Linked DNA regions of Homo sapiens: region 2 is linked to region 1. Evidence: fine-mapped expression QTL. A gene starts in region 1. The other region holds a variant in brackets. All regions are shown on one strand. Distances are between the middles of the regions.

What was found. PIP is the estimated chance that this variant, and not a neighbour inherited with it, causes the effect.
Region 2: its variant is fine-mapped to the expression of PIWIL2-DT in aorta (GTEx, PIP 0.98). The same link has a PIP of 0.9 or more in fibroblasts.

Annotation. Positions count from the first base shown.
Region 1 is chr8:22,266,302-22,279,743 of GRCh38, reverse strand. It overlaps PIWIL2-DT (PIWIL2 divergent transcript), which reads left to right and starts at 4,582. Exons shown (of 2, transcript NR_134293.1): 1 at 4,582-4,765. It overlaps PIWIL2 (piwi like RNA-mediated gene silencing 2), which reads right to left and starts at 4,428. Exons shown (of 23, transcript NM_018068.5): 1 at 4,346-4,428; 2 at 160-403. The coding sequence starts at 357. RefSeq lists enhancers at 3,503-4,148, 9,115-9,284.
Region 2 is chr8:22,242,171-22,257,286 of GRCh38, reverse strand. It overlaps POLR3D (RNA polymerase III subunit D), which reads right to left and starts at 12,154. Exons shown (of 9, transcript NM_001722.3): 1 at 12,104-12,154; 2 at 11,673-11,842; 3 at 10,023-10,066; 4 at 9,279-9,430; 5 at 9,009-9,133; 6 at 8,638-8,806; 7 at 7,978-8,243; 8 at 7,060-7,212; 9 at 2,686-6,891. The coding sequence starts at 11,837. The coding sequence ends at 6,769. PIWIL2-DT (PIWIL2 divergent transcript) reads left to right here. Exons shown (of 2, transcript NR_134293.1): 2 at 2,381-2,711. MIR320A (microRNA 320a) reads left to right here and starts at 12,250; the gene lies at 12,250-12,321. RefSeq lists enhancers at 10,881-11,050, 12,175-12,244, 11,712-12,379 and a silencer at 11,685-11,864. The variant T/G (reference allele first, on the strand shown) is at 6,189.

The DNA.
Region 1 (13,442 bases):
CGACCTCAGATGATCCACCTGCCTCGGCCTCCCAAAGTGCTGGGATTACAGGCGTGAGCCACCGTGCCCAGCCCTGCAAGCACTTTGAAATCCATTACTTCCTCTGACGGCACACAGGTAAGCTGTATGCCACTCCTATGCATCCGGAAGTGGTCTTACCCTTTGTGCTGGCCCCCTCTGTGTGCTTGGTTCCTCTGGCTTTCCAAATACATGGCCTCTGCCTGCAGGTGCTCCCCTGCCCAGAGCTGGGTCCAAAGGTTTAGAAGCTTGTGGCCAACAGCCTGGCATCCGTACAGCCTGGCACTGGGATGGGTGGATAGGAGACTGGCCCCTGAACGATGGTCGGAAAGGATCCATGGACGGGCTGTAGAGAACACGTGTCGATCCTGTTCTGGTTAATTACCTGCCATCATTTTCAAAAGATTAAGATTCCCAATTGTTTTCCTTTTCCTTCAAGACACACTCACAAAGCATTAAAATAGTATTTTGAGTCAGTCCAGTAACACGCCTAGCCTTCTACAACATATTCACTTCAAAGGCTTCTATTTGATCTGTAATATTCTAAACATCCTTCATTAACAATCCCTCAGAGCAGTGGTCCCCAACCTTTTTGGCACCAGAGACTGGTTTCCTGGAAGATAATTTTTCCATGGACCCAGGGGTGGGGGGATGGTTTCAGAGTGACTCAAATACATTACATTTATTGTGTACTTTATTTCTATTATTACATTATAATAGATAATGAAATATAATAATTATACAATTCACCATAATGTAGAATCAGTGGGAGCCCTGATCTTGTTTTCCTGCAACTAGCTGGTCCCATCTGTGGGTGATGGGAGACAGTGACAGATCATCAGGCATTAGATTCTCATAAGGAGGATGCAACCTAGATCCCTCCAATGCGAAGTTCACAAGAGGGTTTGCACAATGAGAATCTAATGCCACCAGTGATCCGACAGGAGGCAGAGCTCAGGTGATACTACAAGCCATGGGGAGCAGCTGTCAATACAGATGAAGCTTTGCTCATTTGCCAATCTCTCACCTCCTGCTGTGCAGCCCAGTTCCTAACAGGCCCCCCAACCAGCCTGTGGCCTGGGGGTTGGGAACCCCTGCCTTAGAGGCCCGTGTCCTCCTTGAACTTACTTATATTTTCTACCCAAATAGCCTCTCACAAAACTCAGTCCTGTGAGTTAACTAGCTGTTGTATAAGGAAGCAGTTTTTTAGGAGGGTCTCCTTCTGTCGCCCAGGCTGGAGTGCAGTGGCATGATCATGGCTCACTGCAGCCTTGACCTCCTGGGCTCAAGTGACCCTCACATCTCAGTCTCCTGAGTAGCTGGGACTACAGGCATGCACCACAACACCCAGCTAATTTGTACATTTTTTGTACAGACGGGGTCTTGCCACGTTGCCAAGGCTGGTCTCAAACACCTGGGCTCAAGAGATCTGCTGCCTCAGCATCCCAAAATGCTGGGATAATAGGTGTGAGCCACTGCACCTGGCTAAGGCAGTTTTTATGTATGAGGATGACTTTGGTTTATAAACAATTTCTTTTCCTCCCCCCCTTTTTTTTTTAGACGGAGTTTCACTCTTATTGCCAAGGCTGGAGTGCAATGGTGCAATCTTGGCTCACCGCAACCTCTGCCTCCTGGGTTCAAGTGATTCTCCTGCCTCAGCGTCCCGAGTAGCTGGGATTACAGGCATGCAGCACCATGCTCGGCTAATTTTGTATTTTTAATAGAGACGGGGTTTCTCTATGTTGGTCAGGCTGGTCTCGAACTCCCGACCTCAGGCGATCAGCCCACCTGGGCCTCCCAAAGTGCTGGGATTACAGGTGTGAGCCACTGTGCCTGGCCTATAAACAATTTCATAGTTAACACAGCCATATCATAAAATTATTGTCAACAAATATTTATGGGTTTTTGCTTTGTTTTTGGCCTCTCTTTCCTACATAAGAGTCCTAACTTTTTTCCAGTCTATGATTGCACCAAATTCTCTTCCTTGATCTGTTTAGCTGCTTCTCCGAATCTCTATCCAATTCTTTTTTACAAAATTCTTCCTTCAGGCTGAGCACACACACACAGTGGTTCATGCCTGTAATCCCAGCACTCTGGGAGGCCCAGGTGGGAGGACCATTGAGGCCAGGAGTTTGAGGCCAGTCTTAGGAACACAACGAGACCCTGTCTCTACAAATAATTAAAAAATAGAAAAAAAAATTTTAAAAACTCTCTTCTTTCAAACTCCATCAGAAGTCTCCAGAGTACACAGTCTTTCTGCTTTGAGCCTACAATACTTGCTCAGTCTCACAGGTTGCATTTAACACCCTTCTCTCTCCCAGGTTACCCGGGGTGAGGCTCTCCCTGGCTTCCCTACCAAATCTAAAGCCCATCAGGTCTCTTCAAAATCACTTCATAACCTGTAGGTCGGGCATGGTGGCCCATGCCTGTAATCACAGCACTTTGGGAGGCCGAGGCGGGTGGATCACTTGAGATCAGGAGCTCAAGAGCAGCGTGGCAAACATGATGAAACCCTGTCTTTACTAAAAATACAAAAATTAGCCAGGCATGGTGGTGCATGCCTGTAATCCCCCCTCCTCAGGAGTCTGAGGCACAAGAATTGCTTGAACCCAGGAGGCGGAGGTTGCAGTGAGTCAAGATCGTGGCACTCCAGCCTGGGTGACAGCACAAGATTCTGTCTCAAAAAAAAAAATATATATATATATATCACTTTATAACCTACAGATTTCAAGACTCCCTCTTTAAGGGGCTCCTCTCATTGTCCTGACTTGCCCCTGATTCCTGAAAAATATTTCTTAACGGAAAAGAATTTTTTTTTTTTAAGAGACAGGGTCTTGTTCTGTCATCCAGGCTACAGTGAAGTGGTGGCATCTTAGCTCACTGCAGTCTCAACCTCCTGTGCTCAAGCAGTCCTCTTGTCTCAGCCTCCCAAGTAGCTAGGACTTCAGGCACCTGCCACCATACCCAGCTAATTTTTAAAAAAAATTTGTAGAGACGGGATCTTGCCATGTTGCCCAGGCTGGTCTCAAACTGCTGACCTCAAGTGATCCTCTCACCTCAGACTCCCCAAATGCTGGGAGAAGCCTCTTCTTAACTTTCAAAAAGCTGTCTTGGCCGGGGGTGGTGGCTCGCGCCTGTAATCCCAGCACTCTGGAAGGCCAAGGTGGGCAGATCACAAGGTCAGGGGTTCGAGACCAGCCTGACCAAAATGGTGAACCCTCATCTCTACTAAAAATACAAAAATTAGCTGGGCATGGTGGCCTGCGCCTGTAATCCCAGCTACTCGGGAGGCAGAGGCAGGAGAATCGCTTGAACCTGGGAGGCGGAGGTTGCAGTGAGCAGAGATCACGCCACTGCACTCCAGCCTGCGCTACGGAGCGAGACTCCGTCTCAAAACAAACAAACAAACAAACAAAAAAGCTGTCTTAAGTATTAGCTACAGAGAAATCATACATTTAAAGAAAATATTAACACACAATTCATAAACCCACAGCGTAAGTGCAGACAGTTCAGGAACTTGCAAAATTTATTGAACTAAACTATCCTCTTTCACACTCTAAACGCAGGATATGACTCCCTTTCTTGAAGGCTATATTTAACTGCTAACACCCCTTTTCGGTGAGCCAGGACTCTGCTCACACCTCCCCAACACCACCCAAAGAATCCCAAGCAATCAGTATGCTAACAGCTACATACTCAGAAGCGCTGGACGGCCTCCCTTAAGGGACATCTGGAATCTTCCTCTTTGTCCACGCTTCCCTCAACCTCCAGCACCACTTCTATAGATTCAGGTAGCTCCCCCAGAGGGCCCTCTCCCAGTGTGGGTTTCCCCCTGGGATCAGGTAGCAGATACTTGGCTGTCCGAAAGGTTCAATGGGGAGCGAACCCAGGACGGGCTGGGCCTGCCTCCCTCGCATCCCTGGGTGCGTGCTCCGCGCTGAGGCCTCGCGACTCGGGCCTAACCAGAAGCAAGGCCCCCGAAGGCGAGTCCCATCCCCTTTCCACCCCGAGAAAAGCACCTTTCCCCAAAGCCACAGCCCTGCCAGGGGTTCTATCTCCTCTCTCAGGCCAAATAAGACGTCCACTTGGGCCTCCGGAGGGCCTCCCCTGCCGCCCCAACCTGGACACCTTCTTGGGGCCGCGGCGCCGGGCCTCGAATAACGACTTCCCGCCCCCGCCCGACCCGCAACCCTCAGCAGCTCCCCGAAGTGGGAGGGGAGAGGCCCGGGAGGGCGGCTCACCCCACGTGCTTGAGCAAAAACCCAACCTGCCCGCCCCCGAGCGACCCTGGCCTGCCTGGCATGCCGCAACCGGGGCCAGTACTCACCTGTGCGCGAGTCCTCGCCCCAGTCGCCCAGCTCCGCGCGGCCTCAGGGGAAGACCGAGCTCAACCCACGCCCCGGGGCCCACATGCTCCAGGGCCAATTTCCGCTCTTCGAGGCCTCCGGGGATGAGCCCATTGGCCACAAGACCTGTCGTTCACAAGAGCAAGCTATCTAATTGGCCCATCTGCAAGAGAGGCTCGTCCTTTCCAGCAGGTTCCCTGTGCAGGGGCGGTTCGTGCGGAAGGAGCGCTGGGAGTTATGTGAACCTCAGCGTTAAAATGTGTTAGGGTTTGGAGATCCTGACTCCCTTTCTGGGGGCAACTCCTATAAACAGATTTAGCCTAAGACTCGCGTGTTGAAATTGACTTGCCCCATTCCTGCCAGTTAAGAGGATTAGCGATACAGGTGGTGAAAAAGAAACGGTAAGCTCGAGTGCGCATTCAAACACCTAATTCATATGATTTCTGCACATCACTTTCGTTATACATAAAACAGAGATAAAAACTAAAAACATCCATTCATAGGGTTGAATGGAAATGTACACACATAATGACATAACGTATGTAAAATACTTAGCACAAGGAGAAGACGACCCTCGATAAATGTTGCCTATTTTTATTGATGCCTAAATCTGTGAGCCAAGAAGAGCTTTCTAGGAAGCAGATTAAATTATCAGTGGTTACTTCAGCAACTACAGAATGATTTTACCCAAAGAAAGATTTCTGACCCTCTCCCAACCATTTTGTCAAATAACTGCATCCCTCTCCCACACCCAGGTTTTACAGTGTGGTTGAGGTAAAGCTTCTGAAGGCTTTGGCGGATGCTATAGAGACATCCAAGGGCTCTGCATGGAATAGGACTAGAGAAGGGTTAACCTTATTTTTTCCAGGCCTCAGATATCCCATGACTTATTTTAATCCACACATACAAGGGCCCTCCCTATCCTTCCCGAATGAGGATAGTCTGAAAATTATTGGAGCAGGATGATTTTCAACTCAGGAATCCAGTTGGCACGATGCCCCTTCACTGTTCCTAGATAGTATTTGTTTACCATGATCTAACATTTTCACTTCCTTTACCACACAACCTTCTTAACTTGCAGCTGTTGCAATGTTATGTTGTAAGCAATTCTCCTGCCTGTGCAAATACTTAATGGTAGCAAGTGCAGTCAAAAACAGTTATACAAACTGTTTTGTAACTTTCGTGAAGATCCAACTCCTTGTTCTTTTAGGAACTCCGACCAAACTTTGCATGACACACTTATTCTATACACATGAAACAATATTTTGGGGGCAGGATTCAGCAAATCTTCTAGTTGAAGTAAGGGAATAATAATCCTCAGATAATTTCCTGAGTATGTCTTCTATTTGGGAACCTAAACCAAGAGCACCATTACAAAGGGTATGCACATTGGGTTTCCTAGATTTCTATATCCTGTCCATCCATGCAAGTGTAGGTGGCCTTCGTACAGTATTTCTAGCTAATCCAGACATCATTAACACTACTTATTTAACCAAAGGAAAATCCATATAGTCCTGCTGTTGATTGGACATAAAAATGGTTGAAGCTTTCTGAAACGTGGACATCTATTTAGGACCTTTCAAAAGCTAATCAACCTCTTTTGGAGATTATATTCCCTAACAGAGTACTTTAATTGTTAATTAGCCATCCCTAGGATATTGATTAAAAAGGACACACATAATCTCATCACAAAAAGATGAGTATGTGAGGTGATGGATATGTTAATTTGGTTTAATCATTCCACAATGTAAATAAATATCAGAATATCATACTGTACCACATAACCATATGTAATTGCTATTTGTTAATTAAAAATGAAAGGGGCAAAAAGAGCACGTATATCACACTAAGAGATAGTATTTTGAGATAAATCACAGATTTTTTTTTTAACTCAAAAAAGTCGTAACACCAAATTCTGTCCACCTGGCCCTGCCAGTCTCTAAAATTCAGAGTGAAAATGGCCCCATAACTATACATAACCTGAATTTTCCTAGGCAGTCATGACTCCAAATACCCTGGGCACTTGGTCACCATAAATATTTCTATTCCAACCATGTATTCTGGTTTGTTGTTGTTGTTGTTGCTGCTGTTCAGAAAATAAGATCCCCAGAGCCACAGCAAGATTAAGGGCAGAAAATTACATTACTGGTGGGGCCTAAAACCTATAGGAAGGATTTCATTTAAAGTAGACCTATGTAGTATGTCTGGGTTCCTGGCAGAGATAACTAGAAATCCTTTCAGGAGAAATACACCAGGCTCCCAAAACTCCCACGTAAAAGGTATGAATAAATATGAGCTCACGAAACACATCAGGCCGAATAACAGGAGGACACACAATCTAATAAAAAAATGGGCAAAAGGTATGGTGGCTCACATCTGTAATCCCAGCACTTTAGGAGGCCAATGTGGGCAGATGGCCTGAGGTCAGGAGTTCGAGACCAGCCTGGCCAACATGGTGAAATGCTGTCTCTACTAAAAACATAAAAATTAGCCAGGCATGTTGGTGTGGTGCCTGTAATCCCAGCTACTCGTGAGGCTGAGGCAGGAGAATCACTTGAACCCGGGAGGCGGAGGTTACAGTGAGCTGAGATCACGCCACTGCACTCCAGCCTGGGCAACAAGTGCAAAACTCTCTCTCAAAAAAAAAGGGGGGGGGGCCAAAAGATGTGAGTGGACCTGTGTCAGTCCATTAGTCCCTTTAGTGTTACTATAAAGGAATACCTGAGGCTGGGTAATTTATAAAGAAAAGAGGTTTATCGAGCTCATGGTTATGCTGGCTGGAAGGTTCAAGACTGGACACCTGGTGAGGACCTCAGGGTGCTTCCACTCATGGCAGAAGGCAAAGAGACCCGGCCTGTGCAGAGATTACATGGAGAGAGAGGAAGCAAGAGAGGGGAGGGAAGCGCTAGGTTCTTTTTAACAACCAGCTCTTGTTGGAACTAATAAGCCCTTTAGTAGAGACAGGGTTTCACCATATTGCCCAGGCTGGTCTTGAACTCAGTGGCTTATGGGTGTGAGCCACCACCCCTGACTGGAGCCGTAAAATTTAATGGAATTTGTCCTTCAGTATCTGCAGAGTATTGGTTTTTAGGACCTCCCTCCATGGATACCAAAATTCACAGATGCTCAAGTCTCTTATATAAAATGGTGTATTTTATATTTGCATATAACCTATGCACATTTCCCTGTATACTTTAAATTGTCTCTAGATGAATTATAATACCAAATACAGTGTAAATGCTACATAAATAGTTGTTACACTGTATTGTTTAGGGAATAATTACAAGAAAAAAGTCTGCACCTGTTCAGTACTGATGCAGCCATCCTTTTTGTTTTTTCCAAATATTTTTGATTTGTGGTTGGTTTAATCCATGGATGCAGAACCCGTGGATAGGGAGGGCCTATTGTATTTAGATGAGATCTTAGACTTGCAATTGATACTGAAACGGTGTAAGACTTTGGGGGCTGTTAGGATGGGGCGAATGTGTTGCATGTGAGAAGAACATGAATTTGCGGGGGACAGAGGGAGGAATGTTAGGGAGTGAATTGTGTCCTCCTTGCAAAACCTATGTTGAAGCCCTAATCCCCTGTATTTGGAGATAAAGTATGTAGGGAGATAATTAACATAAATGAGGTAAGGAGGAGCTCTAATCTGATAGGATTTGTGTCCTTATCAGAAGAGAAAGACATGAGATCTTTCTCTATCTCTATCCCTCTCTCTTCATGGAAGCACAGAGACAAGGCCATGTGAGGACACAGCAAGATGGCGGCCATCTATAAACTAGGGAGATGGTACTCACCAGAAATCAAATTTGCCAGCACCTTGATCATAGAATCATAGTCTCCAGAGCTGTGAGAAAACAAATGTGTGTTGCTGAGGCCACCCAGTCTGTGGCAATTTGTTATGGCAGGCCTGTCTGACTAATAGAATAACAGAAGTCAGCAAGGATGTGGTGGAACAGGAACCCTCAGACATTGCCAGTGGGAATGTAAAATGATGCAGCCTCTTTGGGAAACATTTGGCAGTTTCTCAAAAAGTTAAGAAAAAAATTACTGTAGGAACCAAAATTTCACTTCTTGGTAGCTACCTAAGAAAAATGAAAACATGTCCACACAAAACTTGCATGCAAATGTTCATAGCAGCATTATTGATAATTGCCAAAAACTTCACCTAAATGTCCATCAACTGGTAAATGAATAAACAGAAATTTGTATGCTTAACAATGGGGATGCGTTAAAAAAAAAAAGGAGGCCGGGCACGGTGGCTCATGCCTGTAATCCCGGCCGGGTGCGGTGGCTCATGCCTGTAATCCCTGCACTTTGGGAGGCCAAGGCGGGTGGATCGCCTGAGGTCAGGAGTTCGAAAGCAGCCTGGCCAACATGATGAAAACCCATCTCTACTAAAAATACAAAAAATTAGCTGGGTGTGGTGGCAGGCGCCTGTAATCCCAGCTACTCAGGAGGCTGAGCTAGGAGAATCGCTTGAACCCAGGGGGCAGAGGTTGCAGTGAGCCAAGATCGCGCCACTGCACTCCAGCCTGGGCAACAAGAGCAAAACTCTGTCTCAAAAAAAAAAAAAAAAAAAAAAGGAATAAAGATGTGGTATATATTCACACAATGGATGGATTCATCAATAAGAAGGAACAAACTGCTATGGCATGGATGAACCCCAAAAAATATGTTAAATGAAAGAAACCAGACATAAGAGACCACATATTGTATGATTCCATTTATGTGAAATGTCTAGAAAACATAAATCTATAGAGACAGAATGTAAACTAATGGTTGCCTGGGGCTGGGGTGGGAATTAGGATGAACTGTAAATGTGCATGAGGGCTTTTATTAGGGTGACAAAAATGTTCAAAAACTGACTTATGGCAATGTTTGCACCACTCATTAAATTTACCAAAAATTATTCAATAGGATAAATTATATGATATGATATGTAAAATATATCTTTTTTTTCTTTTTCTTTTTTTTGAGACGGAGTCTAGTTCTGTTGCCCAAGCTGGAGTACAATGGTACGATCTTGGCTCACTGCAACCTCTGCCTCCCGGGTTCAAGCAATTCTCCTGCCTCAGCCTCCTGAGTACCTGGGATTACAGGCTCCCGCCACGACGCCCAACTAATTTTTGTATTTTTAGTAGAGACGGGGTTTCACTGTGTTGGCCAGGCTGGTCTCGAACTCCTAACCTCATGATCCACCCGCCTCGGCCTCCAAAAGTGCTGGGATTAAAGCATGAGCCACCACGCCCAGCCTAAAATATATCTTAATAGAGGCATTTTTAAAAAAACGCACATTAAAAAATAAGCAGAGCACTTTGGGAGGCTGCAGTGGGTAGATCTCTTGAGGTCAGGATTTCGACACTAGCCTGGCCAACATGGTGAAACCCCATCTCTACTAAAAATACAAAAATTAGCCAGGCATGGTGGCACACGCCTGTAATCCCAGCTACTTGGGAGGCTGAGGCAGGAGAATCACTTGAACCTGGGAGGCGGAGGTTGTAGTGACTGAGATCATGCCACTGCACTCCAGGCTGGGTGACAAAATGAGACTCTGTCTCAAAAAAACCAAACCAACAAACAAAAAGAAACACCACAAAATAACATAGAGAAACTACAGTGAACAGAACCAGATCTAGAAATATTTCAAAAAATAGTGTCACTGAACACGGAATATAAATAAATAGCACATTTCATAAATATGAAACAGTATGTTTCAAGAAATAAAGGTGGCAATTGCAACAATGAGTAAAGAGCAAAGGCAGGCCAAGTGCAGTGGTTCATGCCTGTAACCCCAGCACTTTGGGAGGCTGAGGCGGGCAGATCTCTTTAGCTCAGGAGTTCAAGACCAGCCTGGGCAACATGGCAAAACCCTGTCTCTACAAACAATAGTAATAAAAAAAAAATTGGCCAGGAATGGTGGTGCATGCCTGTAGTTCCAGTTACTTGGGAGGCTAACGTAGGAAGATCACTTGAGCCTGGGAGGTCGAGGCTGCAGTGAGCTCTGATTGCACCACTGCACTCTAGCCTGGGCAACAGAATGAGATCCTGTCTCAAAAAAAAAACAAAAAAAAAAAAAGCAAAGGTAACCAAAATTGATGAGGCAAGTTTGGAAAAGAACCAAAACAGAACTTCTAAAAATGAATAAAGTAATAGAAATTAAACACTTAAAGGAAAATTACACAAGAGAATATACACAGCTAAAGAGAGACATCATGAATTAGAAGATCAGCTGAAATATTTACCTAGAATGTAGCACAGAGACAAAGAGATGGAAACATGAGAGGCTAAGAGACACAGAGAACAGAGTTAAAAGGCCCAATAAAGTATGAGATGGAGATAACACAGAAAAAAGAGGAAAGGCAATATTCAACAATTTAATGGGTATGAACTTTTTAGATTTGATGAAAGATACAAATCTTTAGCTTCAAGAAGACCAGTGACTCTGAAACAGAGAAGTAAAAAGAAATCTACACTCAGCACATCATCATTGTAATGCAGAATACCAAAGGCAAAGAGAAGATCTAAAAAAGCAGTCATAAAGAAAAAACACATTATCTATAAATGAGTGAAAAGTGGATTCAGTAACAGTAATATTAATAGGAAAATCCTGGAAGACAGGGTATAATATATCCACAGGCCTGAGAGGTTAAGGGAAAAAAACCTGTCAACCTAGAAATCGTATAGCCAGTGAAATTTTCTTTCCAAAACAAGGGTAAAATAAAGCATTTTCAGAGAAACATAAACTGACAGATTTACCTTCAACAAACCTCTCTAAAGAAATTTCTAAACATGAAGATAAAGAAAAAATGGGCTAGGTTAGGTGGCTCACCCTGTAATCCCAGCACTTCGGGAGGCCTAGGAAGGCAGATCAGTTGATGCCAGGAGTTCGAGACCAGCCTGGGCAACATGGTGAACCCCCGTCTCTACTAAAAATACAAAAATTAGCCAGGCATGGTGGAGCATGCTTGTAACCCCAGCTATTTGGGAGGCTGAGGCATGAGAATCGCTTGAACTCGGAAGGTGGAGTTTGCAGTGAGTCAAGATCATGCCTTTGTGTTCCAGCCTGGGCAATAGAACAAGACTCTGTTAAAAAAAAAAAAAAAAGAAAGAAAGAAAAGAAAAAGAAAAAGGAAAAAAAAAGAAAAAGAAAAAATGCCCCCAGAAGGAAAGTCTGGGAAGAAAAAAGGAATCATGAGTGTAGTAAGTGACTGAATAAAGGGGTAATAATTGTGTCCAATAGATGGATGACTTAGCCTAGATCCTCAGAAGGCAGGGCCTAAGACAAAGATTTAGTGCAAGTATTTTACTGCAGAGTGTGATCCCAGGGACTAGGAGTAAGGGACAGGGGAATGACGCAGGGAGGGAGGGAGAGCTTACTCAAAGATGCATTAGGAAGTTGGCCACTGCTACAATGATCTAGTTGCTCTATCCGTCAGGACCATTTGAGAAGCCATATAAAGTCCATGTCAAGACCACCTATCCTACAGGAGCAAGGAGGATGCTTGTACTATTGACTCTCTCCTTTCCTTTGGTCAAAGACACGCCTCAAGGAGTGTTAAACCCCGGTACTTTGTAGTTGCACCATGGTGTTCCATCCTTTTCCATGCTTTGTCATCAACACGAAAGTCTCAGGGAAGAAGGAAGAAGATGCACAGAGCAAGCCTGAGGTTAAGTACTATCAGGTTGTATCTGTGTAGACCTAGTGGGTACCCACAGAGAACTGGTCAACACAGTGCTGGCTAAATAAAGAGACAGGTAAGACTGAGAAGATGTGCAAAGGGTCATAGAGATGTCCAATACGATGAAGTTTTTAAACAGCCAAAAAAAAAAAAAAAAATAGAGCCAAGAAGTTAAGACAAATAGGCATATAAGTCAGGAGAGAGATAATTATAATAAAAGCATTATAAGGTTCTGGAGGAGGGTAATAAGAATTAACTTTACACTCACTAAGTATGCACATTAAAATTTTTTAAAGAAATACAGTGAGCCTACAAAACATGGTGAAACCCTGTCTCTGCAAAAAATAAAGAAAAAAAATTAGCTGGGCATGGTGGCACACGCCTGTAGCCCTAGCTACTAGGGAGGCTGAAGTGGGAAGATCCCTTGAGCCCGGGAGTTCGAGGCTGCAGTGAGCTGTGATCATGCTACTGCACTCCAGCCTGGGCAACAGATCAAGACCCTGTCTCAATTTTTTTTTTAAGAAATAAAATCTATATATTTCCAGTCAGTGGAGGAAAAACAAATGAGAAAAAATTAATCTAAACAAAAAGGCAAAGAAGAATAAAAATTTATCACAGAAAAATCCGGACAAAAAGGAAACATAAAATAAGTGACAGAAATAAATTCTACTGTGTTAGTAATTACAATATAAATATGTAGAACTTTCCAGGCAAAAGGCAGAAATTGGTTGGGCGTGGTAGCTCACCCTGTAATTCCAGCACTTTGGGAGACTGAGGCGGGTGGATCACTTGACCTCAGGAGTTTGAGACCAGCCTGGCCAACATGGTGAAAACTTGTCTCTACTAAGAAAAAGAAAAAAAAAAAAACTTAGCTGGGCATGGTGGCATGTGCCCGTAGTCCCAGCTACTCAGGAGGCTGAGGCAGGAGAATCGCTTGAACCCAGGAGATGGAGGTCACAGTGAGCTGAGATCATGCGACTGCACTTCAGCATGAGCAACAGAGCAAGACTCTGTCTCAAAAAATAAATAAATAAATAAAAATAAAAAAAACAGAGATTATCAGATTGGATTTTAAAAACAGAATCCAGCTATATAGTGTTTAGTAGATAGAGATAGACATAAGTAGACATAAAATATAATGACAGAGAAAGGTTGAAATTCAGATGGTGAAAACATAGGCCCAGTGCTTTGGAAGGTGGGAGATAACTTAAGGCCAGGTGTTCAAGACCAGCCTGGGCAACCTGGTGAGACTCCATTTCTACCAAAAAAAAAATTTGCTGGGTGTGGTGGTGCATGCCTGTAGTCCTAGCTACTTGGAAGGCTGAGGCGAGAGGATTGCTTGAGCAGAAGAATTTGAGGTTACAGTGAGCTAGGATCCTGCCATTGCACTCCA
Region 2 (15,116 bases), 23 kb after region 1:
ACGATGAAAAACTAGAAAAAATCTAAATATCCCAGAAATGGGAGATCAGTTGGGTGAATTTTCATAGTACGAAGACGGATTCTAATATAACCATTAAACTTTAGTTGTACAATTTAAGAGACGTTCCTAAAGGAATTCTTGTGATCATCTTGCCCTGGGGAAAGGTCTGAGAGCCACACTGAACATGGCTAGTTTAAGTACTGGTCGTGCTTTCATTGGGAATATACTGTTTTGAGGGAATGAATCGGAGAGAACTGTGTTGGCAGCACGGCACAGTCTCAGGAAGCTTCACTCAAACTGTGAACCCTTATGCTAACTCCCGTGAATATGGCTGGTGGCGCCCACCACCCACGCCACTCCCATTTTATAAGGTGGAACCTGAACTGCAGGGCCAGAAAGCAAAATACCCACATTTCCCTAAATCTCTTGTGCTAGCATTCTGGGCATGCATGAGGTTTTACCAGTTGAGGTTTGGAAGGTGGAGGTAAACTTGAGGCCACCTTCTTCACTTTGGCCGTCTTCCGCTGCCAGAGCTGTGGATGAGCTTGACTCTCCTCCCTCTCACACCTGACATGGAATCTATCAGCAGATCACGTGTGTGCTACCCTTGAAATCAGTATCTAGAATCCAATCACTTCCCAGTGCCCCTGCTGTTAGCGGCCTGGCCAAGCCACTGCCATCCACTGTCCAGGGACTCCATCAGCCCTGCTTCCCGCCTCATCTCCACACCAGCTGGCTCACCAGGTCACTTTAAGAATAAAGCCGGGCTGGGTGTGGTGGCTCACGCCTGTAATTCGAACACTTTGGGAGGCCGAGGCGGGTGGATCACCTGAGGTTAGGCATTTGAGACCAGCCTGGCCAACCTGGTGAAACCCTGTCTCTACTAAAAATACAAAAATTAGCTGGGCTTGGTAGCGGGTGCCTGTAATCCCAGCTACTCAGGAGGCTGAGGCACGAGAATCACTTGAACCTGGGAGGTGGGGGTTGCAGTGAGCCAAGATCACGCCACTGCACTCCAGCCTGGGCAACATAGCGAGACTCCGTCTAAAAAAAAAAAAAAAAAAAAAAAAAAGAATAAAGCCAAGGTCCCTACCATGGCCTAAAAGCCCTCCAGGGCCAGGTCCCACCCCTCTCACTCCCTCAGCTCCAGCCAGTCTCTGTCTTACTCTTCACTCAGCCCAGAGCACTCTCCCCACCTGCATCTGATCCCGCTGGTTCACTTCCTCAAACGATACCCTCTCAAGGAGACCTACCCTACTTGCTGCAACATGCCCGCCACCACCCAGAATCCCCTGCTCCCTGCAAGTTCCCAAACTCTTGTCACCTTTTAACGTCCTTCCTTAAGCTTATCCTGTCTCCCTCACTAGAGTGCAGGCTCCTCCAGCAGGACACAGCCCCTAACCACTGCTTTCCTAACTCCTGCAGGGTGCCTAGCACACAGCAGGCACTTTCTTCAGGTGTGCCAGGGTCCAGCTACAGCTGTATGGTTCCCCAGAGGCAGCTGGGGCTGTGGGATTCCCTCACCCCTGGCTGGCAGCTGTGGCAGTGTGTTGTGTTCCGGAACTCAGTCGAGCTTGAGTCTCCACCCTCCTGATTGTGGCAGAGGGTGTAGCTCCCTCACCATCTGTTCTAGGGGGTGCTGATTCCTGGATGCTTAACCTATGGCTCACTCCTCCAGCCTTCCAACGAGTCTATAAACTTCTCTTCTTGTATTAACTCTTTCTGAATACCTAGAATGGTTTCTACTTGTCCAGTGAAACCTCATGCACGCCCTGGAAAACACACAAGATAAAGTCTCCAGGCCAACAGTGATCAAGACTGCATTTTTCTTTTTCTTTCATGTAAGCTTTCTATTTTTTTTTTTTTTTTTCTGAGATGGAGTTTCACTCTTGTTGCCCAGGCTGGAGTGCAATGGCGTGATCTTGGCTCACCGCAACCTCCGCCTCCCAGGTTCAAGCAATTCTCCTGCCTCAGCCTCCCAAGTAGCTGGGATTACAGGCATGCACCACCACGCCCAGCTAATTTTGTATTTTTACTAGAGACGGGGTTTCTCCATGTTGAGGCTGGTCTCGAACTCCTGACCTCAGGTGATCCGCCCACCTTGGCCTCCCAAAGTGCTGGGATTACAGGTGTGAGCCACTGCGCCTGGCCCATGTAAGCTTTCTTAAGATGTAAAGACTGCATTTTTTTTCTGACTATATCTTAAATGTAGATGAGCCAAGTAACAAAGTCCAACTTCTGACTCAGTTTTTGGGAAGACAGATCAGTGGTTACCCCAATGGAAGGGAACAGAAGAAATGCTTTAGAAGAGCTGAGGCAGAAAGTGGCCATGCAGAGGGCTCCTAGAACTGGTGTCCCATCACCATCTCTGTTTTTTCAGATGACACCCCTAAGACCTGAGCCCCTTCTGGGCCCCACACTCCACCTGTAGAACTCTGATGGGGCCTTGTGCGGCCGAACCACAATCCAAGAGAGGTGTTCACATCATGTGTCGCTAGCCACAGCCATCTCAAGGGGAAATGCCCCAAATGTAGAAGTATCTGACACCAGGACTGGGGGTTGGAGCACTGGATGAACAGCGTGTGTGCCACTCTTTCACTGTGCACCGTCCTAAGAAAGAAGCCTGTTTCCCTTTGAAGAGCCTAGTGCTGACTGCCCAATTCAATCGGACCACGCAGGGCAGTCTGAGGATTAAAAGATGCTACCTTTAATTCCTTCGGCTAATTCAGAAGTATGTGAAACACAACATACTCATTAACATGGAAGAACTGGATGTGTGTGCATGTGGGTGTGTATTATTTATTTTTCAGAGACAAGGTTTCACCATGTTGCCCAGGCTGGTCTTGAACTCCTGGGCTCAAGTGATCCTCCCACCTCAGCTCCAGAGTAGCTGGGAACGAAGAATTGTATGTATTTCTGAGTGAGATAGAGTACACGATAAAACCACATAATTTATATCATTATAAATAACATACAAAATTTTGGAGGCTGAAATAATATACATGAGCAGTCATAAAATACAATGAAATCATGTGCTTTGCAGCCACATGGATGGAGCTTGAGGTAATTATCCTAACCTCGGAAACAGAAAATCAAATAGCACATGTTCTCACTTATAAGTGGGAGCTAAATAATGGGTACCTATGGACATAAAGATGGAAATAGCAAACACTGGGCACTCCAAAAGGGGGTGAGTGGGAGGGGGGGCAAGGGTTGAAATGCTACCTGAGTACAATGTTCACTATTTGGGTGATAGGTATGACAGAAGCCCAATCCCCACCAGTACGCAATATACACAAACACGCACATGTGGCTGGGCGCAGTGGCTCACGCCTGTAATCCCAGCACTTGGGAGGCTGAGGCAGGTAGATCACTTGAGGTGAGGAGTTTGAGACCAGCCTGGCCAACATGGTGAAACTCCCGTCTCTACTAAAAATACAAAAATTAGCCAGGTGTGGTGGCATGTGCCTGTAATCCCAGCTATCTGGGGGGCTGAGGCGGGAGGATCACTTGAACCTGGGAGACAGAGTTGCAGTAAGCCAAGATCACACCACTGGGCGACAGAGTGAGACTCCATCTCAAAAAACAAAACAGAACAAAACAAAACAAAACAAAACTAACATGCTCATGTACCTGCTGAATCTAAAATAAAATAATATACACTAAAATGTTAAAATTGATTTTAGTAGAATAAAAGGTGACTGAATATTTTAAAAAGTTATGCCTAGATGAATACTTTATGATTTTACATTGCAGCATTTTTTGAACATGGCAGCAGCTACTATGAATTGTCTATCCAACTGCCACTCCAGCTTCCTCCCTACTAACAAAACCCCAGCTCAAGGGCAAGTGTGCTCAGTGCCAGGGGATACACTAGTCGACCCATCCCCCTTTGCCAGGGCCTGGTCCAAGAGTGGGCACGTGGCCCCACTCTATAAAGAGACAGGGGGGAGGTTGCTGGAGCTGCTGACGGTTATTCCCGGATAAGGGCAGAATGAGAAGGCTCCTGTACTACTGTCCACTCTGGCTGTGGACACCATCATTTGCAGAATGATGCTTGGCGCAGGAGCAGCCATTCTGCAATACTGAGGATGGCAAAGCAGACGGTTCCAAGGAAATCCTGATGACATTTTGGCTTCCACCCAACTCTAGAACCATCTATTTACAGACTTTTTGCTATGTGAGATAAACATTCCCATTGCTTAAGCCACCGTCAGGCTAATTTTCTGTTACTTGTGCTGATCACATCCTGTTATAGGCAGTTATCTGTCTGGCACCGAATAAATGCCTCATGTTCACTCTAATTTAAAAGCAACCCTATTAAGCTACTACTGTCTCACTCTTACATAAAATAAAATAAATAAAATCAAGCTTAAAGAGGATAAGTGATTTTTTCCAACCAAAGTTACTGGTGGAGTCAGATTCAAACCCAACCGTGACTCGACAGCCTGGACTCTGCCACTTAAACATGTAGTTAGAAAAGTGTGCAAGCCTATTGTTCCTTCTTTCTGTATTTAACAGAAAGCATATACACAGATGCAGGGAGCAACAAATTTGCATCCACTTGCACTCATGTATAAATTTGGCTTTGGGCTCTTCTCCTCTGTCATCTGTCCATATTCCTTGGTAGAAATGCATGCCTCAGGGGCCTGACCAAGAAGGTGGACTCTCCTCTCTTTTCCCACACTTATTAATAAGACCTAATTTGTGCATCAGGGATCTGAGACAGGTTGTGAGGACTTTGATACGGAGTCATAAGGTTCAAGCCAAGACATCTGAATGGGCGAAATGAACGTGAAAGCAGTACATGTTCTTCCTCAAACTTTCTTGGAAGGGTCAGAAAACAGAAGATTGAAAAATACCCAATATCTAACATCGGGCCATTGAGTTCGTCCAAAAAAAGCAGAAGAGTATTTCTGAACCAAAGAAACAGAATAGAAAGAGAGGATGAGAATGGAGACCTGCTGGCCGTGCATCAGCTATTTAAAGGAAGAAAGGGCTGGAGCCCAGAGTTAACCAAAGCTTAGCCTTAGACCAAACAGGGCTTCCCAGCACAGGTTTCCAAGGAACCCTTTCTGCTCCAGTCCTCTACAGTGAGAAGAGCCCAGAATAACACTGTCCAATGGAGCTGACATGAGCTTCAGCACCAGAAAGGGTGATATGGTCACCAAATATTCAGTCAGCCTCACAGCTGCTGGCTGGGCAGGTTGAGGGCTTTGTAGGAGAAGCCCAGCCTTGACAAATGAGTAACAGGCTTGAGGAACTTTGAAAAGAAGGAAGGTGAGCCTGAAGGAAGATGTACCCAAAATCTAAGGGGCCACTAGGAATCAGGGATGGGGGTGGAGGGGAAGCGGTTCTTCCTGAGCCCCTATGGTTCATACTGTCCCAGAGGCCAGGTGCCACGACGCCAGCAAAGGGAAGTTGTGCCATCAGCGTCTAACAGCCACACACGCTGCCGCATGAGACCTTTTTCTAACCTGCAAACGTCTCCCCAGCTGAACCAGGGAAAACCCCAGCCCTACTGTCAAGACAAGAGGAGAAGCTGTTCCTCCAGGGACAACACAGTACAATGACCTGGTAAAGGGAACAGGATCACAGACCCAAAAAAGTAACACTGAGTAGGTGGCTCTGGCAGTGCTAGGACAGGAGACGGGCAGGCCTCTGAAACCCAAAGTTTTTGAAGTGGGCATCATCGGCCAAGTGTCAAAGAGGCCATTATTCAATACATCCCTAACTTCTCTTATGAAGGATTTAGTTTTTTTGTTAGCAATATATGACTTCGGCTCATACATGAGTACTAACTGCAAAGGAAAGAGTGCAGGGAACATGTCCTGGGCCCAACATGTCCCCCAAAGGCTTTTGTAGGGTGCTGGGAGGGGTCTCTGACTTCTTCCTTTCTATTACCTGCAGCTATTACAGTAACTCACACAGGAGGCACCTGGCTAACAGGAGCCAGGAGAAAAAGGCATAGAACAATCTGACACCATAAATTTAGGGCATCAGGCCCAGGGTGAGGACGGGATATAAAGCAGGAAGGGGCAAGAGTGGGGACGGGAGCAGCTCTAGTCGCTGCTTCTGGGAGATTTAGAATCTCTATTTTGTTTGAAAATAGACTCAGGTAGAGAAAAAGGACATGAACGTTTATTGAGTGCCTGCTGGTTCTGGCCTTGTGCAGTTTTCATCTATAA[T/G]AGCCCATGAATCCTCACGCCAACCCTGGAGGTAGGTATCATCCCCATTTGTGTCGGATGAGGTATAGGAGGCTCAGAAAGGTTAGGTAGTTTGTCCAAGGACACAGAACCAGGAACTGGCAAGCTGGGACCGAGTGCTTAAGTCTCAGACTCAATCCTTGCTCTCTCTCCTATACTGCCTCCAGGAGGACGGGGGGAGCACCAGCAGAAGCTGCAGTCCACACGCTTCCTGCCCCTGCAACCCAGCAGGCACCAAGAGAAGCCGGCCCCTTCACACAGACCCTCCCCATCTACCCTTGGAGGATGCATCAGTGGAAGAGATTAAGACATAAATACAAAAATAAATAGCAGGGCCAAGTCCCCAGCAGCAAGGATGTGCCATCTCCACGCTGCAGGAAGGTCACTGTGCCATTCACAGCTGCTGTGGGAGGAAGCCCTGGGGGACCTGGAACAATGGTTGCCAAAGGCTGGAGTGAGTGGGCTCAGTGGGCCCCTTCTGGGTCTCACAGATTCAAGAACAAAATGTCTGGAGCAGGCAGCAGCCGTGGGCACAGGCGCCGTCCTCCTCCACCTGCTCATTTTACCGGTGTTTGTGATCCAAGAGGGATTCAAAATCAGGGGAACATACAAGTTTGTGCTTCACGTGTCCCAGGACTGTCATCTCCCCTGTCCTACTGTCTCCAAGGCCCACGGACACCAGCTCCTGCCAATTAACAGAGACAGTGATGAGAACCACCACCACGTGCCCGGCGTGTAGAGCTGTGAATGGGGACATGATACTCCCAGAAACCCCCTCCCTTATTTAGCAGTGGCTCTTCAATCCTCCTTCACTCCTGAAAGGGTCCCTCCTTGCCCCTAAGGAGGCTCTTACCTGCAGGAAGGAGCAGGCAGTTCCCATGGTCACGTCCAGAGTCACCTTGCCCAAGAGGAGTTGCACCCTTCCAGACTTGCGGATGAGTAGCTTGCCAACCTGACCCTCTGTCAGGTCAGCCAGGGTACAAGCATTCTCTGCCAATTTGGCTTCCTGCGGAGAAAACCAGAGGATGGACACTGGGCTAGGAGCTCTTTCCTCCATCTTTCATGAACCCCCTTCTACTCCCCAAGAGAAAGGCACAGCAAAGGTCAAAATGAGCTCCCCAAAGAGTGCCTTCTCCTAGGGCTGTCTGCTATGGTTAAAATACAAAACCCACAGCAAACAAATACATACACGGACAAAATATCAGTTACTGCTGAAGCTGAGTTCTGGTACATGGCGGTTTACGTTCTCTTATTTTTTTGAGACAAGGTCTGACTCTGTCGCCAAGGTTGGGGTATAGTGGCATGATCTAGGCTTACTGCAACCTCTGCCTCCTGGACTCAAGCCATTCCCCCGCCTCAGCCTCCCAAGTAGCGGGGACTACAGGCACACGCCACCATGCCTGGCTAATTTTTGTATTAGCCATGGTGTCACCACGTTGCCCAGGCTAGTCTCGAACTCCTGGGCTCAAGTGATCCTCCTGTCTCAGCCTCCCAAAGCGCTGGGATTAGAGGCATGAGCCACCGCATCTGGCCATATGTTCTCTCATTTGTGTTTGAAATATTTCCTTATAAGAAGTGAACACACACCCCCACAACACATACACAATTGGGGTTGGAGGTACAAAGCCCCATGGCTCTTGCAGGCGTCAAGAATAACCACCCATTATTGTCCCATTTCAGCCAGGGTGACACGGCTTTGCTTCCCACTACAGGTCACCACTTCCCGTCCCAGTCCCCGACTTGATTCCCGCAGGCCTCTGTCTGAGCGTACTCGGTCTTTCTCCTGCTTGATGAGCACCACCTGTCCGTCCTCGCCCTGCACCTCTGTCTTGATAGGCTTGATGTCCTGGGTGGGTGGCTGGCCAGGGAGGGTGTCTGGCAGCTGCAGAAACAGCAGTTCCTCTTCCTTGGTGAGGCTCAGCTCCCTCAGCAGCTCTGCCACAGATACATCCTTCGGGAGGCCTGGAGTCTTCCTGGCTGCTTTGGGAGGAGCCTTCATCTTGGCCTCTTCCTCCTCATCTCGTGGCTCCTCTTTCACTGCCCGGGTGATAGACATGGAATGCTATCAAGTGACCACCCTCCATACCAGCTCACTGTTACCAGCCCTTTGCCCCTGTCTGCTCCACTGTCACTCAGCCAGGGAGTGGGAAGGAGGCACCAGTTATACAGAGGGGCAAGAGACAACACGTTCAAGTCTCACATGACTTATCTAAAAAGGGACATCTGAGGCTAGGCCCACTGCTCCCTGTCAACACAGGAACCCTCTGCGAGGGAGAATGGAGCATCTTTGTTCAGCTCATGTATCTTACAGCCGGAATGGGAGGACCTGCTCACGAGCAGCAGTCAGGGGCACATGCAAGGGATGCCTGATGCACGGGATTCCTGGGGAGCAGCCATGGAATTGGAGATGAGAAGTTAACCGACAGAGTACCTTTCACAGCAGGTATGTCCACCTCCATGTCCTCTTCCTTGGGGCCAGCCAGCCAAGGTTTAACATCTGGTTCGTCATTTTCTTCCTTAAAAAGCCATCCTGAGTGAGCCAGCGGCAGCTGCACAGGCATATTTCGAGTGTCGTTCCTCAGGCCGGGGTCATCGAGGAACTGCCAAAGAGAGTCTGGGTCATCCAGCCTGCTAGCACATGCACCTGGATCAAAGTCTGCTTTAGTCCCTTTCTAACCAAAGATTCCGCTGCTCCCCAGGATTCCAGGACATCAGTAAGCTCTTCTACCCCTCACCTGGCTCCCCAGAAGCCCTGTTCTACAGCCACAAGGAAACCCCTTCCCCCAGCCTCCTGGTACCCACATCGTCCTTCTCCAGCATACGCAAGATCTGTTTAGTTTCTTCGTCTGTCTCTCTCTTCTCTTTTTTGATGTTGATGATATGAGAAGGTCCCATGTCTGACACATCCACTGTCTTATCCCAGTTCCCTGTGGGAAATCACCCAGGTCACTAGGGATCGATAAGGAAGATGCCCAACAGCAAGGAAAACGGAAATGGGAGTGGGGAAATTCCACTGTTCTCGCCCTTCTCTGGGGCAGTCTGAACTGAAATTCACTGATTCCTTCCTTATACCTTTTTTCTTCATCATTTCAGCTGGGCCCTGCTCAAAGATGGAGTGAGACTGGATCACTTCTGGACGGCCTCGCCCTCGTCCATGCCCCTCTCGTTGTCGGTCTCTGTCCCTTTCACGCTTCTCCTTCTTGACAGTTACTTCTTCCTTGGGCCTGGAAAAAAGAATGGATTAAGGGAAACCACTCACTCACTGTGTCTCCAAAATCTGGCCTTACTCTCCCATACCACTTCACTCCAAAACAGTGGAGAGTTTGAGCCAATATTTACACCATGAGAAGCAGAATCCAATCCTAATTCTAGCACTTTTCTCACTTCCTTGATGAGGCAGGATTTTTTCAGTTTGCTTTACTTTACCTTCTTGTCCAAAAATATAGATTTTTGTTTGCATTGGGACTGAAAGCAGGAAGGCAGAAATGCAAAGGAACTTCAGGGAAAGTGTGATACATCTTTGTTTAAACTATTGGCTCTCAACTCGGGCAACAAAGAGAATCACTCCATTCTACTGCCAGCAAGTTAAATCACAATTTCTAAAGATGGAACCCTAGACACCAGTAATTATTTATTTATTTATTTATTTTTTAAAGCTTGCAGAATCACCTAGGAGCCAGGGTTGAAAATCACTAGTGAAAAGAACTAAAGATATAAATTTAAATTTTGGAGCTACAAACCTAGTTATTTCCCCCAAAGCCCCAAATTCAGAGCAAGTAAATAAGGGGCAAGTATTCAGAAGGCCTAGCTACTTACTCTTCCTTGATCTTCCGACTGATGATATTTGGGGTGAAGGTTTTCTGAAAGCAAAATACAGGAGTCACTGATGTGTTAGGTTCTGACCCCAAAGTACAGAGGAAAATAAAAATTCCCAAAGGGCATCTTCTACAGACCAAGGCCACCACGGCTCTCGTTGGCACATTCCACAGTGCTGTCAGTTTTATAGATACACATGTGCCTGAAAAGGAGGAATGTCATAGTGTGGTAGCAGTGGAGTTACACATAGAAGGGGGCACCAAAACCCACTTTTAACCAGCAGCCTTAGGTTCTGCCTCTGAAAGAAGATCCTCTGGGACTTCTAAAAGCAAAGGAATTTCTCTGGTCTCACCTCTTCTCTTCAAACTGCTATAGAGACCAGTCAGTATCATGGGGGAACAGCTCTAGCAGCAAGGCCTAAGTAGGGAAGGCCATAGATCTGCCAACACTTTCAATCAGGTGACTATGGACTGTCACCACAATTTTCCAAGGCAAAGTTAGGTTTTTAAAAACTGCTTTATGGCTGGGCGTTGTGGCTCATGCCTGTAATCCCAGCACTTTGGGAGGCCAAGGTGGGTGGATCACGAGGTCAGGAGTTCAAGATCAGCCTGGCCAAGATGGTGAAACCCGTCTCTACTAAAAACTACAAAAAGTAGCTGGGCGCGGTGGCGGGCCCCTGTAATCCCAGCTACTCGGGAGGCTGAGGCAGGAGAATCGCTTGAACCCGGGAGGCGGAGGTTGCAGTGAGCTGAGATGGTGCCTCTGCACTCCAGCCTGGGCGACAGAAAGAGATTCCCTTAAAAACAAAACAAAAAACCAAAAAACCGCTTTATTCGGCCAGGAGCGGTGGCTCACACCTGTAATCCCAGCACCTTGGGAGGTCGAGGCAGGCGGGCGGATCACGAGGTCAGGGGTTCAAGAACAGCCTGGCCAACATGGCAAAACCCTGTGTCTACTAAAAATACAAAAATCAGCTGGGCATGGTGGCGGGCGCCTGTAATCCCAGCTACTCAGGAGGATGAGGCAGGAGAATCGCTCAAACCTGGGAGGCAGAGGTTGCAGTGAGCTGAGATCGTGCCATTGCACTCCAGCCTGGGGGACAACGGCGAGACTTCCTCTCAAAAAAAACCAAAACCAAAACCAAAACCTGCTTTGTTCTTCTGTCATCCTGACCCCACCCCTTTCTGGGCTACTCTTGACATCCACAGTCATATACACATGGGAGAGGCCACAGAGCCTCGAATGCCATACCTAGGATTCATCATACTCTAGATAAAAAGTTTGCACACAGAGATGGTGAATTCTGAACCCTCTAAGACTGCGAAGTTTATGCCTGTCTGGCTTTCATGGGTTTCTTAAAGATGTCCAAACACACAATAAAAGTAAATAAACACTGTTCAAATTGCTTTTGAACGACTTTAACTTATTAGGATTCTCTGCCCTTCAACCACCTCTGGGAGTCATTTCAACATCTTGTACTCAGTACCTAGATTTGAAGGTAGGACAGACTCCCTAGAATTTAAAGAGGGGTAGGCTTGAGAGGCCCAACGACAGTCCTGACACACAGTAGGTCCTACACAAACATTAGTTGAATCCTGGGGCTTGGAATTCAAGGTAGTTGAGTTTCTTTAGAAACGCGCCGTTGGGTACCTTCTTGACTCCCCCGAGGGTGAGGTCCCTGGAACGGATGGAGGGAAGGCGGCCGGGGGTGAGGGGAGGCGCCGGCCGCCGCCCGATGAGCCCCCGGGCCCCAGTCAGGAGAGGTCGGGGCCCTCCCGGCGTGCTGGGCTCGCCGGCGGCGTTTCCTTCCGACATGTTGCCTGGGAGAGAAGGGGCGACGAGATCACCAGAGGGGACTGACACGCGGACCCTGGCGGAACCCCACCCCCTTGCTTTCCGGTCCCCCAGTCGGTGCGTCCCTCCAGTGGCCTCTCAGCTCCTCCCCTCCCACGTGGCGAGACTCCCGGGACCACCCAGGTGAGAGCCTTTGGCTCGCGACACGCCCTCTCCAGGAACCCCGCCCAGGAACCAGACAGGGACGCACCCGGGCCGCGGCTCCACACCGCGCGTCACAACCTCACCTGCAACGCGACCAGCCGCCAGCCTTCGGTCTCCGCGCCGGGCGGAAGTCTGCGTGGCAGGGCCTGGGCGCCGCCATCTTGGCGCGGGGCGGAAGTGACGTTAGGGGGGCGGGACTGGGCCACAGTATTTATCAGGCGGCGCTTCGCTCCCCTCCGCCTTCTCTTCCCGGTTCTTCCCGGAGTCGGGAAAAGCTGGGTTGAGAGGGCGAAAAAGGATGAGGTGACTGGTCTGGGCTACGCTATGCTGCGGCGCTCGGGGGTCTTGGCCTCCGGGCGGTGGCGTGGAGGCGCCAAGATCAGGGTCCCGGGTTTTGTCGGCCACCACGCCGCAATGTGAGGATTCGCCTCGGCGGAGCCCCTGGGAGCTTCGGGGTAGCTGCTCGGGATGGGGCGAGGGGCGCGGCGCGGCGCAGAGAGTGAGACCTGGACTTAAGAGTCGGGGAGTCCTGGGCCACACCGAGCCCTGTCTGCGGGTTCTCCATGGTGACCTTGGAGTGGTCATTACCTCCGGGCAGCGACCTCGCCCACTTTCGGGGACCCCTTCCCTGTGCTCCTGGTGGAGTCCTGGGGTGAGGCTGTGGGGGCAGCTTGGAACAGCCGCAGTGGACCAACCGGTGCCCAGTCATACCCGCTTCTGATCACGAAGGCGGTGGCCCTCGTGTGCGCTCTTGGTCAAAGCCTGGAGGGAATTGGAATACCAAGTTTGCTCTACTGCTGGAGGAATTTAAAGAACTTTTGTTGACTCCAGCGTTTGTGATTTAACATAAAAGGTGTCATTTAATGTTATCCCCCATCCCCCAGACCGTATAAAAACCATGTAACAATATTATGGGGAGTTTGAGGAAAGGAAATCATTTCTACCAGAATGCCACGTAGAGTACTACTATTAAAAATTTTGTAATGTATCTAGTAGTCTTCACAGAGTTGTCGTATCACAATTTCGTGTCCTTTTTCTTTTCTTTTCTTTCTTTTTTTTTTTTTTGAGACGAGGTTTCTCTCTGTTGCCCAGACGGGAGTGCAGTGGTGCGATCAACACACCGCAACCTCTGCCTCCCAGGCTCAAGCCATGCTTCCACCTCAGCCTCCTGAGTAGCTGGGACTACAAGTGCATGCCACCACGCCCGGCTAATTTTTTCTTTTTCTTTTTTTTTTTTTTTTTTTTTTTGTATTTTTCGTAGAGACGGGGTTTCACTATGTTGCCCAGGCTGGTCTTGAACTCCTGAGGTCAAGTGATCCCACCCGCTTCGGCCTCCCAATGTGCTGGGATTACAGGCATCAGCCACCACGCCTGGCCTGTATCCTCCTTTTTCAAATAACATTTCTCTGTTGCGACATCAAAGACTGCGTAGTTCTCCAGTGGCTGTATCATGATTTAAGTATTTCCCTGATTGTTTCTTTTTTCCCTGTTTTAAATAATGCTGCAGTGAATGTCTGGTACATTTGACTTGCTTTTTTTCGATTTTGTTTTTGTTTTTGTTTTCTTTTGGATTATATTCCCGGGATAGATTTCCCGTCCTGGGATAACTGGCCAAAAGAAGATTTTTTTTTAAGTAAATATTTGCGATAGGCACGGTGGCTTAGGCTTGTAATCCCAGTGCTTTGGGAGGCGGAGGTGGGAGGATCGCTTGAAAGGCTCGGCAGTTGGAGATTTCAGTAAGCTATGATCCAGCCCTTGCATTCCAGCCTGGGTGACACAGCAAGACCCTATCTCTAAAAACATTTTTTAAATTAAACTTTTTATTTTGAGAACATTGTAGGTTCATGTAGAGTGGTAAGAAATAATGTAGAGAGATCCCAAGTACTGTTTACTCGTTTTCCCCCAGTAGTAACCTCTTGCCACCAGAATATTGACATTGGTACAGTTAAGATACAAGAAGTTTCCATCACCACAAGGATCCCTCTAGTTGCCCTTTTATAGCCACACCTCCCTCCCCCCACCTCCTCCCACCACTAATCTGTTCTCCATTTCTGCCATTTTGTTATTTCAAAAGTGTTACATAAATGGAATCATACAGTATGTGACTTCTTGGGATTGCTTTTTTCACTCGGCATTGTTCCCCGCAGATCATCCAAGTTGTGTGTATCAATAGTTCGTTCCATTTTATTGCAGAGTATTCATGGTTTGTTTAACCATTCACCCTTTGAAAGACATCTGGTGGTTTTCCGTTTGGGGTTATTATGGATAAAGCTGCTGTGAAAATACATGTACAAGGTTTTGTGTGAACGTAAATTTTTATTTCTCTGGGATAATTGCCCATGAGTGCAATCATTGGGTCATATGGTAGTTGTATCTTAGTTTTATAAGAAACTGCCAAGCTGCTTTCCACAGGGGCTGTACCATTTTGTACATGCACATTTTATGGTTCTTCATTCATATTGCTAAATTGCTTTCAAAAAGGATTGTGTGGCCGGGCGTGGTGGCTCACGCCAGTAATGCCAGCACTTTGGAAGGCCGAGGTGGGCAGATCACTTGAGGTCAGGAGTTCCAGACCAGCCTTGCCAACATGGTGAAATACTGTCTCTACTAAAAATACAAAAATTAGCTGGGCGTGATGGCACACGCCCATAATCCCAGCTACTCAGGAGGCTGGGGCACAAGAATCGCTTGAACCACAGAGGCGGAGGTTGCAGTGAGCTGAGATCACGCCATTGCAGTCCAACCTGGGTGACAGAGGGAGACTGTCTCAAAACAACAAAAACAAAAAAAACCCCACAAAAAAACAAGATTGTGCTGAAATGCATCAACACTAAGAATGTGTGTATATACAATAATCAAACGTATATACACACACACACTATATACACACACACACATTGTGGGCTTTTGAAGGACTCCTGGGTGAGGCTGTGTGGGCAGCCTTGGAACAGCCACATTGGATCAACCGGTGCCCAGTCCCACCCTTCCTGGGCTCACAGCAGTGACCCTCATGTGCACTTTTGGTCAAACCTGGAAGGAATCTGAATACCAAGTTTGCTCTACCGTTGGAATTTAAAGAACTTTTATTGGCCAGGT